Regions from separate parts of the Homo sapiens genome. Here all the other regions are linked to region 1. Evidence: fine-mapped expression QTL. A gene starts in region 1. Each other region holds a variant in brackets. All regions are shown on one strand. Distances are from middle to middle.

Region 1 (2,758 bases):
ACAAAGTTTTGCACTCAATCTTAGCGGGTCACAGTCATTCAGTGAAGTCATCCATGTCAATTTTTTTTTTTGAGACAGTCTTGCTCTGTCGCCCAGTCTGGAGTGCAGTGGTAATTACTGCAACCTCTGCCTCCTGGGTTCAAGCGAGTCTCCTGCCTCAGCCTCCCGAGTAGCTAGGATTACACCATGCCCGGCTATTTTTTCTATTTTTAGTAGAGACTGGGTTTCGCCATTTTGACCAGACTGATCTTGAACTCCTACCTCAAGCAATCCACCCGAGTTGACCTCCCAAAGTGCTGGGATTACAGGCGTGAGCCACGGCGCCAGCCAAACGTCAAATTAGATTATAAAATATTTCCACTAAATGTGTAATTCTAGAATTAATCATTTTCTGAAAAAAATGTTAATTATCCCTACATATGACTCCTAAGAAGTGAGCATAACCCCTCCCTCAATAGCTTTCCACCTCCAATTCAACACAGGAGGAATCCTGGGTTTTTAGAATTCAGGTCAACAGAGAAGGGTCTTAACATAGTCACATTTAGTAAGATAGACCTTTGGCCTCTCTTTAAGTGAAAGTTCAGTGCAGCCAAGGCACTAATTTCCACCATTGTCTCGACTTAATTTCGTCTTGGGCTGCAAGAATTCATTATTGCTCTTTGCATCACTGTTGTCTGGGACCACTTCAAGTATTTTCAAAGGTTTGATACCGTTCCACTTAAACTCTGAGACCCGGTTTTCTCATTTACCTGACAGTGATAGTAACAGCTACTTCTCAGGGTTATTGTTTAGAGAATGGACGTTTATGGAACACTCAGCAGTGTCTGCACACAGTAAGTGCTCAATAAGAGTTAGCTATCATTATTACGTCCTCACCGGGGCTGTCCCCTTGAGGTTGGATCACTGTGGACTCCAGGAGCTGGCACATGGTACCCACCGTCCGTGACTGGGGTAGGCCTGGGGCCGGAGGAGGGCCCTGGAGCCCTGGGAGTCCCGGGGGGCCTGGTCGACGGGAAAGTTCCGAAGGTGGCCAGGGCTGCCTCGGTGGAGTTGAGGCCCTCTGTCGTCACCGCCGGGGTGGCATCGGTCTGGGCGCTCACGGAGGCCCAGCAGCCCAGGAGCACCACCAGGAGCGGCGGGAGACCTCGCGGCCTCATCTCCCAGGGAGTCCCAGCGAGGCCCGCGACATGGACAGCGCGTTGCCCGGCAACCGCGACAGCCAGGCGCGGGGCATCACGGGAAGGGGCTTGCGAAGCCGCGAGAAGCTGCCGGAGACTGACTGGGGCGAAGCCTGGATGAGGCAGGGGGCGGATCCCGGATGAGGCCGGAGGGCGGCGCCTGGGTGAGGCAGCGATGGCAGGCACAGGGGCGAGCACTAGTGAGCGGGTGTGAAGCTGGCGTAAACGAGGGGCGTGTAAATCCCGGCTGTGGTTTCCAACCGGTCCGCGGCGCTTGCTTAAAAAATGCAGATTTTCTGTAGTTCCAGCTACTCGGGAGGCTGAGGCAGAAGAATCGCTTGAACCCGGGAGGTGAAGGCTACAGAGAGCCGTGAGCGTGCCACTGCACTCCAGCCTGGGCGACAGTGTGACACTCTGTCTCAACCAAAAAAAAAAAAAAAAAAAAAAAAGACGGATTTCCAGGTACCACCTCAGGAGATCCTGAGTCAGTTAGTCTAGGGCAGGACCCAGGAATCAGTTTTTGGGGGATTTTTTTTGAGACAGGGTCTCACTCTGTCGCCCAGGCTGGAGTGCAGTAGCGCGATCTCGGCTCACTGCAGCCTCGACCTCTGGGACTCAAGCAATCCTCCCACTTCAGCCTCCTGAGTAGCTGGGAACTCAGGCGCGCGCCACCATACCCAGCTAATTTTTGTATTTTTTTTTTTTTTTTTTTTTTTTTGTAAAGACGAGGTCTCCCTCCGTCGCCCGGACTGGTATCGAACTCCTGGTTCAAGTGATCCACCTGCTCCAGCCTCCTGAGTCCTGAGTAGTTGGGATTACAGGCGTGAGCCACCACTCCCAGCCAGGAATAAATATTTTTAACAAATGTCCGGACGCAAGCAGATGAGTTGGACGGAAATTTAGGAAGCGCCGTCCCAACGCCACTAACGTGGGTGTTTGGAAGGAGCACAGGGATCTGTGAGATCACTGTCTCTGAATTTTCTCTATCCCAGACTCTGTCAACACTGGCTTCACCTTTTTATTTTAGCTGCATCTCACAAGGTTGCCAGATAACTTCTGTCTGCTGTATTGTGATAAAGGGGACAAATGAACACTTAATACCTTTTATTATTTTTTGTAGAGAGGGGGTCTCACTATGTTGATCAGGCTAGTCACAAACTCCTGGCCTCAAGTGATCCTCCCGCCTCAGCCTCCCAAAGAGCTAGGATTACAGGCATGAGCCACCACGCCAGGCCTAAGAACCTATTTAAAGACAAAAATCTTTTACAAAAATTAAGTAAAATAATTTAGACATCTTAAAGGGGAAAACAAAGCAAATCCACTGTAATGCTACAAAACGACCTGGAGACCCTACGATTTAGGAAACCCTCTCCATTCTGAATGGGCTTATTTAGGAGGTACCCAAGCCCAAGAATGTTGGCTGCACCTTTGACACTTAATCTCCATACAGTTCAGAAGTAGATGTCGAAGTACTTAGACGTGGCCAGGCACAGTGGCTCACACCTGTACTCCCAGCCCTTTGGGAGGATCGCTTGAGTCCAGGAGTTGAGACCAGCCTGGGCAACATGGTGAAACCACAT
Region 2 (2,758 bases), 170 kb after region 1:
TCTGCTGTGCGAGAACGTTAACAGTCATAGACAAGAAGTATAAGTAACTGTCTCAGCACTGCTGAAACCAACTGCCAGATATCAAGACCCTGGGATTTTGACCTTTTTAAAATAAGAAGAAGAAAAACAAAAAATTGCCAAACAAATTGTGTCATGAGATCTGTCTTTGTCAAGACAGTATTTCTGGCTTTTGTCCGTCTAGAGCTACCTACAACAGCTTGTACAAGTATATTTTAAGTCATAGTTTTCATAAAAAGAAAGATGTGTATCTGAACCTCAACATGTTCTAAATAATTGAGTTTTTTTCTGAAACTATAATATGTAAATTCAAATAAAATTATATTGAATACTTTTTATTTTATTTAATTATATATATTTTTTATTATTACTTTTTTGAGATGGAGTCTCGCTCTGTCACCCAGGCTTGAGTTTGGTGGAATGATCTCAGCTCACTGCAACCTCTGCCTCCTGGGTTCAAGCAATTCTCCTGCCTCAGCCCCCTGAGTAGCTGGGATTACAGGCACGTACCACCATGCCCGGCTAGTTTTTGTATTTTTAGTAGAGACAGGGTTTCTCCATGTTGGCCAGGCTGGTCTCGAACTCCTGACCTCAGGCAATCCATCCGCCTCAGCCTCCCAAAGTGCTGGGACTACAGGCGTGAGCCACTGCGCCCGACTGAATACTTTTTATTTTTAGGAAGCAGTTAAAGTTAGTCTATGTCTCAGTGTTTTTTTATAAATGCATTGAGAGACGTCTTGAATAATGTTCACCAAATGCTAATGGTAGTTATTTTTGGGGAAATGGGAATTAAGGTGACAATTAAAAATTTTTTTTTTGCCTGGTGCTGTGGCTTATGCCTGTAATCCTAGCTACTCAGGAGGCAGGAGGATCACTTGAGGCCAGGAGTTTGAGACCAGCCTAGGCAACATAGTGAGACTGCATCTCTAAAAAAAACTTTTTTTTTTTTTTTGGAGACAGAGTTTTGATCTCGTTGCCCAGGCTGGAGTGCAATGGTGCAATCTTGGCTCACTGCATCCTCCACCCGCGAGTTCAAGCGATTCTCCTGCCTTAGCCTCCCGAATAGCTGGGATTACAGGTGCCTGCCACCATGCTTGGCTAATTTTTTGTATTTTTAGTAGAGGCGCAGTTTCACCATGTTGGCCAGGCTGCTCTCAAACTCCTGACCTCAGGTGATCCACCCGTCTCGGCCTCCCAAAGTGTTGGGATTACAGGCGTGAGTCACTGTGCCCAGCCATCTTTAAAAACTTTTCTTTAAAAATTTTATTTAATTTTTAAAGAAAAAAATTAGCCAGGCCTCATGGTGCATGCCTGTAGTCCCGGCTACCTGGGAAGCTGAAGCAGGAGGATCACTTGCGCTCAGGAATTCAAGTCTGTGGTGAGTTATAATTGTACCACTGCACTCCAGCCCGGGTAACAGAGCAAGACCTCTCTCTAAAAAATAAAACTGTTTTGATTGAATTTCATTTTCTAATGAGCATGTATAAGTTTTACGAAAACAATAAAGCTGTAAAAATAAACCATGTACTACTTTTCTATAAATATTTTCTGAAAATCCGGGGG[T/C]GGTGGCTCACTCCTGTAATCCCAGCACTTTGGGAGGCTGAGGCAGGCAGATCACGAGGTCAGGAGTTCGAGACCAGCCTGACCAACAAGGTGAAACCCCATTTCTACTAAAAATACAAAAATTAGCCAGGCCTGGTGGTACATGCGTATAATCCCAGCTACTTGGGAGGCTGAGGCAGGAGAATCGCTTGAACCCGGGAGGCAGAGTGAGCCGAGATCATGCCATTTCACTCCAGTCTGGGCGACGGAGCAAGACTCCGTCTCAAAAAAAAAAAATTTGGCCGGGCACGGTGGCTTATGCCTGTGATCCCAGCACGTTGGGAGGCCGAGATGGGCGGATCACGAGGTCAGGAGATCAAGACCATCCTGGCTAACACGGTGAAACCCCGTCTTTACTAAAAATACAAAAAATATAGCTGAGCATGGTGGCAGGTGCCTATAGCCCCAGCTACTTGGGAGGCTGAGGCAGGAGAATGCCGTGAACCCGGGAGGCGGAGCTTGCAGTGAGCCAAGATCGCGCCACTGCACTCCAGCCTGGGCGACAGAGTGAAACTCTGTCTCAAAAAAAAAAACAAAGGCTGGGCACGGTGGCTCATGCCTGTAATCCCAGCACTTTGGGAGGCCGAGATGGGCGGATCACGCGGTCAGGAGATCAAGACCATCCTGGCTAACATGGTGAAACCCCATCTCTACTAAAAATACAAAAAATTAGCGGGGTGTGGTGGCAGGTGCCTGTAGCCCCAGCTACTCAGGAGGCTGAGGCAGGAGAATGGCGTGAACCCGGGAGGCAGAGCTTGCAGTGAGCCAAGATCACGCCACTGCACTCCAGCCTGGGTGACAGAGCGAGACTCTGTCTCAAAAAAAAAACAAATAAATATTTTCTAAAAACTTTGTATTTCAATAGGATCATTTTATTTTATTCAACTCCACAACTGTTGACAGTTGTATGTGTTTTCCCTTTATGGCTTTGATAGTTGTTATGTTTTGTATTTGGCTAATGTTCTCTGTGCTCCTTCCCTTGTGTCCTGCTTAGCAAAAGATACAGATATTGTGGATGAAGCCATCTATTACTTCAAGGCCAATGTCTTCTTCAAAAACTATGAAATTAAGGTAAATTACGGAGCTTTTAATATTTAACTTAGTTTTCTCATAGGGATAATACCAACCTTGCTATCCA
Region 3 (2,758 bases), 850 kb after region 1:
CATGCCAGGCTACACTCCCACCCGCAGAGCACAGGAGTTCCAGTGGCCCCACAACCTGCCAGTGCTTGGTGTCATCTTTCATTCTGTCACCACTCTGGGGGACATTCCTTCCTTCTAACCCTTTTATCCTCCGTATGCCTTCCTTCCTCACCTGTGAAACGGGATGATGACCCCCTGCCCACCTCATTGGCTGGTTAAGTGTGCTACTACGTGAACACGGCAGATGGGGCTTAGCGCCAGGGCGAGCTGCTGCCTCTTGCTTCCTGGCCCCTCCTTGAGTCTACTGTTCACCTGTAAGGCCAGCATGGCTGCTGCTGCCTTTTTAGTGAGCCGCCTGCATGGGGCTGAAGGGTACGCTCTGTGCTACAGGCTGACTGTCCCCACTATAAGTGGACACAACTGGCCCTGCCATGGGGAAGGAGGGCCATGGCGGGCAGACTCCTGCCCCCATCCATAGCCCCTCCCTGGTCCTGAGACATTCCCAAGGGCAGCCCACAGCTTTCCGGGGCTGAGGGGGTATGGAGAGTGGTGGTGGTGGAGTTCCATGAGGCAGATGGAATGGCCCTGGGCATGTAGTTTGCCCAGCTGAGCCTGTTTTCCCACCTGTAGAATGAGGGTCATGATCATGCCAGGTCTCCAAGGTGGCCTCAAGGAATGGAGGCGCCGGGGGCTCAGTAGGGGGTGAGGTACATGATAGGTGCTTGGAGCTCATTACTTTCAGGGGAGCCTGGGAGAGGAGCTTCACCACTCGGCCTCTGCTTCCTCATCTGTAAAATGGGGTGATGCTACTGCTAATACTACTTCCCAAGATGGCTGGGAGGGTTTGACGGGTCATGTGCGGTAGATGGCGTTAACAAAAGCTGGTGTTCTGTGAGCGTGAGTATTAATACCTTCCCCATCTGCCCAGAGAAAGGGCCCTCCCAGAAAAGGGGCAGGGGACTCATGCCACCCTTCAGACAGGCACAGGTGGGACTGGCATCGCAGCTGGGGATAGAGTGCAGACCCTGCTACCTCCCCACTGATCAGAAGGCTGCTGGCCATGTCCCAACCTTCTAAAGCATCGTCCCTGACACCTCGTGGGCTCACAACCAATCCAAGTGAAATGGGATGGAGAGGAACAGGCGGTGGCGGGACATGGGGGTCCAGAGACAGCTTCCCAAAAGGAACTGTATCCTGGTTAAGTCCTGGGCCACTGGTAGAAGAGGTGAAAAGGGAGGGAGAAACAGATTTCAGGCAGAGTAAACAGCCCAGGCAAAGGCCCTGAGGCAGAGAAGTAGTCAGGGTGGGAACTGCAAATGACTCGGGAGGAGAGAGGCACCGGGGCAGGCTTGCAGAGAGAAGCCCAAGAGAGGTGGCCGGCCGGGAGGGCCTCTTCGCTGCAGGAAAGCGGCTCTCACTGCACGGGGCACTCTGGCTGTGTGTAGAGACATGATTGGCTGTCACAGCTAGGGGTAGAGGTGCTACTGGCATC[G/C]GGTGGGTCATGGCCTGGGATGCCACTAAACATCCTACAATGCACAGGACAGCTCTGCCACAGAAAAGGGTCCAGTCCCAACTGTCAGCAGGGCCAAAGGGGGAGAGGCCCCGACGTGGGGCACTGGGCAGCCATGGGAGGTTTTAAGCAGGGTAAGGCATGGGCAGGCCTATGAGCCTAGGCAAATGAGCTTCAGTGGGCTTATTTGCCTCTGCCCTGGGTGAAGGGTGTGGTCTGACCTGGCCAGGGCAGCAGGGAGTGAAGAAGTAGGTGGCTCTCCGTTCATCTGGCCTCACTGGGGCTGGGCAAGTGGACCCAGCCATGGACCCCCATCCCGACTCTGCCCGGGGCAGCCTCCTCCTAAGTGGCCTAAAATAAACTCGGTGTGGAGAATGGAAATGTCACTTTGGCCAACGGGGGAATCTTTCTCCGAGATTGGATTTAAACTACATTATACAAGCAATTTCATGGGCACTTAGCGCCACTCGGAGAGTCCCGCAAAAAAGGGACCAGCTCTTCATTTACCAGCCATAAATCAGCAGTTGCTATAATGAGCACAAAAATGTCACTTTTATGCAATTTTACAGATGAACAAAACTGGTGAAATTAACTGTGGTAACCTACTGGAGTCAGCAAAAGCAGCTGCCGGGGAAAAAAAAATTATATCTGTATGTATTTTTGTTCCTCTTAAACTCTCTTCCCAAGCAAGTTTCTGCCATTGTGGTGTGAAAACTCATTTGTCCTCACCATTATACTTTCATTTGGAGTTTATCTTGAGTATCCAATGAGCCACCAACTGTGAAAATGATTAAATCTACAAAATCTATCTAATGGACGGAATAAATTAGGTGTTTAAAACCTTAAGAAGAAGAAGAAAAAAAAGGAGTGCCTGTTCCTAGTCCCCATTCACTGAAAGAAGGGGCATTTTGCCCCCATGTGGTCAACAGGGCTCATTGAGGGTGACCTGGTCCCTCTGCCATTCCACAGAAAGTGCCATAATACAGAAGCTCATTTTGGTGAGCGTCTAGTATGTGCTAGGCTCCAGGGCCATGGCTTTTTTTTTTTTTTTGAAGACAGGGTCTTACTCAGGGTAGAATGCAGTGGCACAGTCGTAGCTCACTGCAGCCTCAACCTCCCAGGCTCAAGTGATCCTCCTGCCTCAGTCTCCCAAGTAGCTGGAACTACAAGGGTGTGCCACTACACCTGGCTAATTTTTGTATTTTTTGTAAAGATGGGGTCTCACTATGTTGCCCAGGCTGGTCTCGAACTCGTGGGCTCAAGTGACCC

What was found. PIP is the estimated chance that this variant, and not a neighbour inherited with it, causes the effect. A credible set is the group of variants that fine-mapping cannot tell apart.
Region 2: its variant is the best candidate, but not a certain one, in a credible set for the expression of TCTN1 in whole blood (TOPMed, PIP 0.68).
Region 3: its variant is the best candidate, but not a certain one, in a credible set for the expression of TCTN1 in tibial artery (GTEx, PIP 0.79).

What each region holds. Positions count from the first base shown.
Region 1 is chr12:110,612,582-110,615,339 of GRCh38, reverse strand. It overlaps TCTN1 (tectonic family member 1), which reads right to left and starts at 1,211. Exons shown (of 15, transcript NM_001082538.3): 1 at 938-1,211. The coding sequence starts at 1,157. RefSeq lists an enhancer at 885-934.
Region 2 is chr12:110,440,245-110,443,002 of GRCh38, reverse strand. ARPC3 (actin related protein 2/3 complex subunit 3) reads left to right here. Exons shown (of 7, transcript NM_001278556.2): 3 at 2,615-2,691. Among named protein-coding and RNA genes, the nearest start is that of ARPC3, 8.7 kb to the left of the region's middle. The variant T/C (reference allele first, on the strand shown) is at 1,582.
Region 3 is chr12:109,764,005-109,766,762 of GRCh38, reverse strand. All of the region lies in intron 2 of FAM222A (family with sequence similarity 222 member A), which reads right to left. The region is part of intron 1 of FAM222A-AS1 (FAM222A antisense RNA 1); the gene reads left to right. Among named protein-coding and RNA genes, the nearest start is that of FAM222A-AS1, 8.1 kb to the left of the region's middle. The variant G/C (reference allele first, on the strand shown) is at 1,472.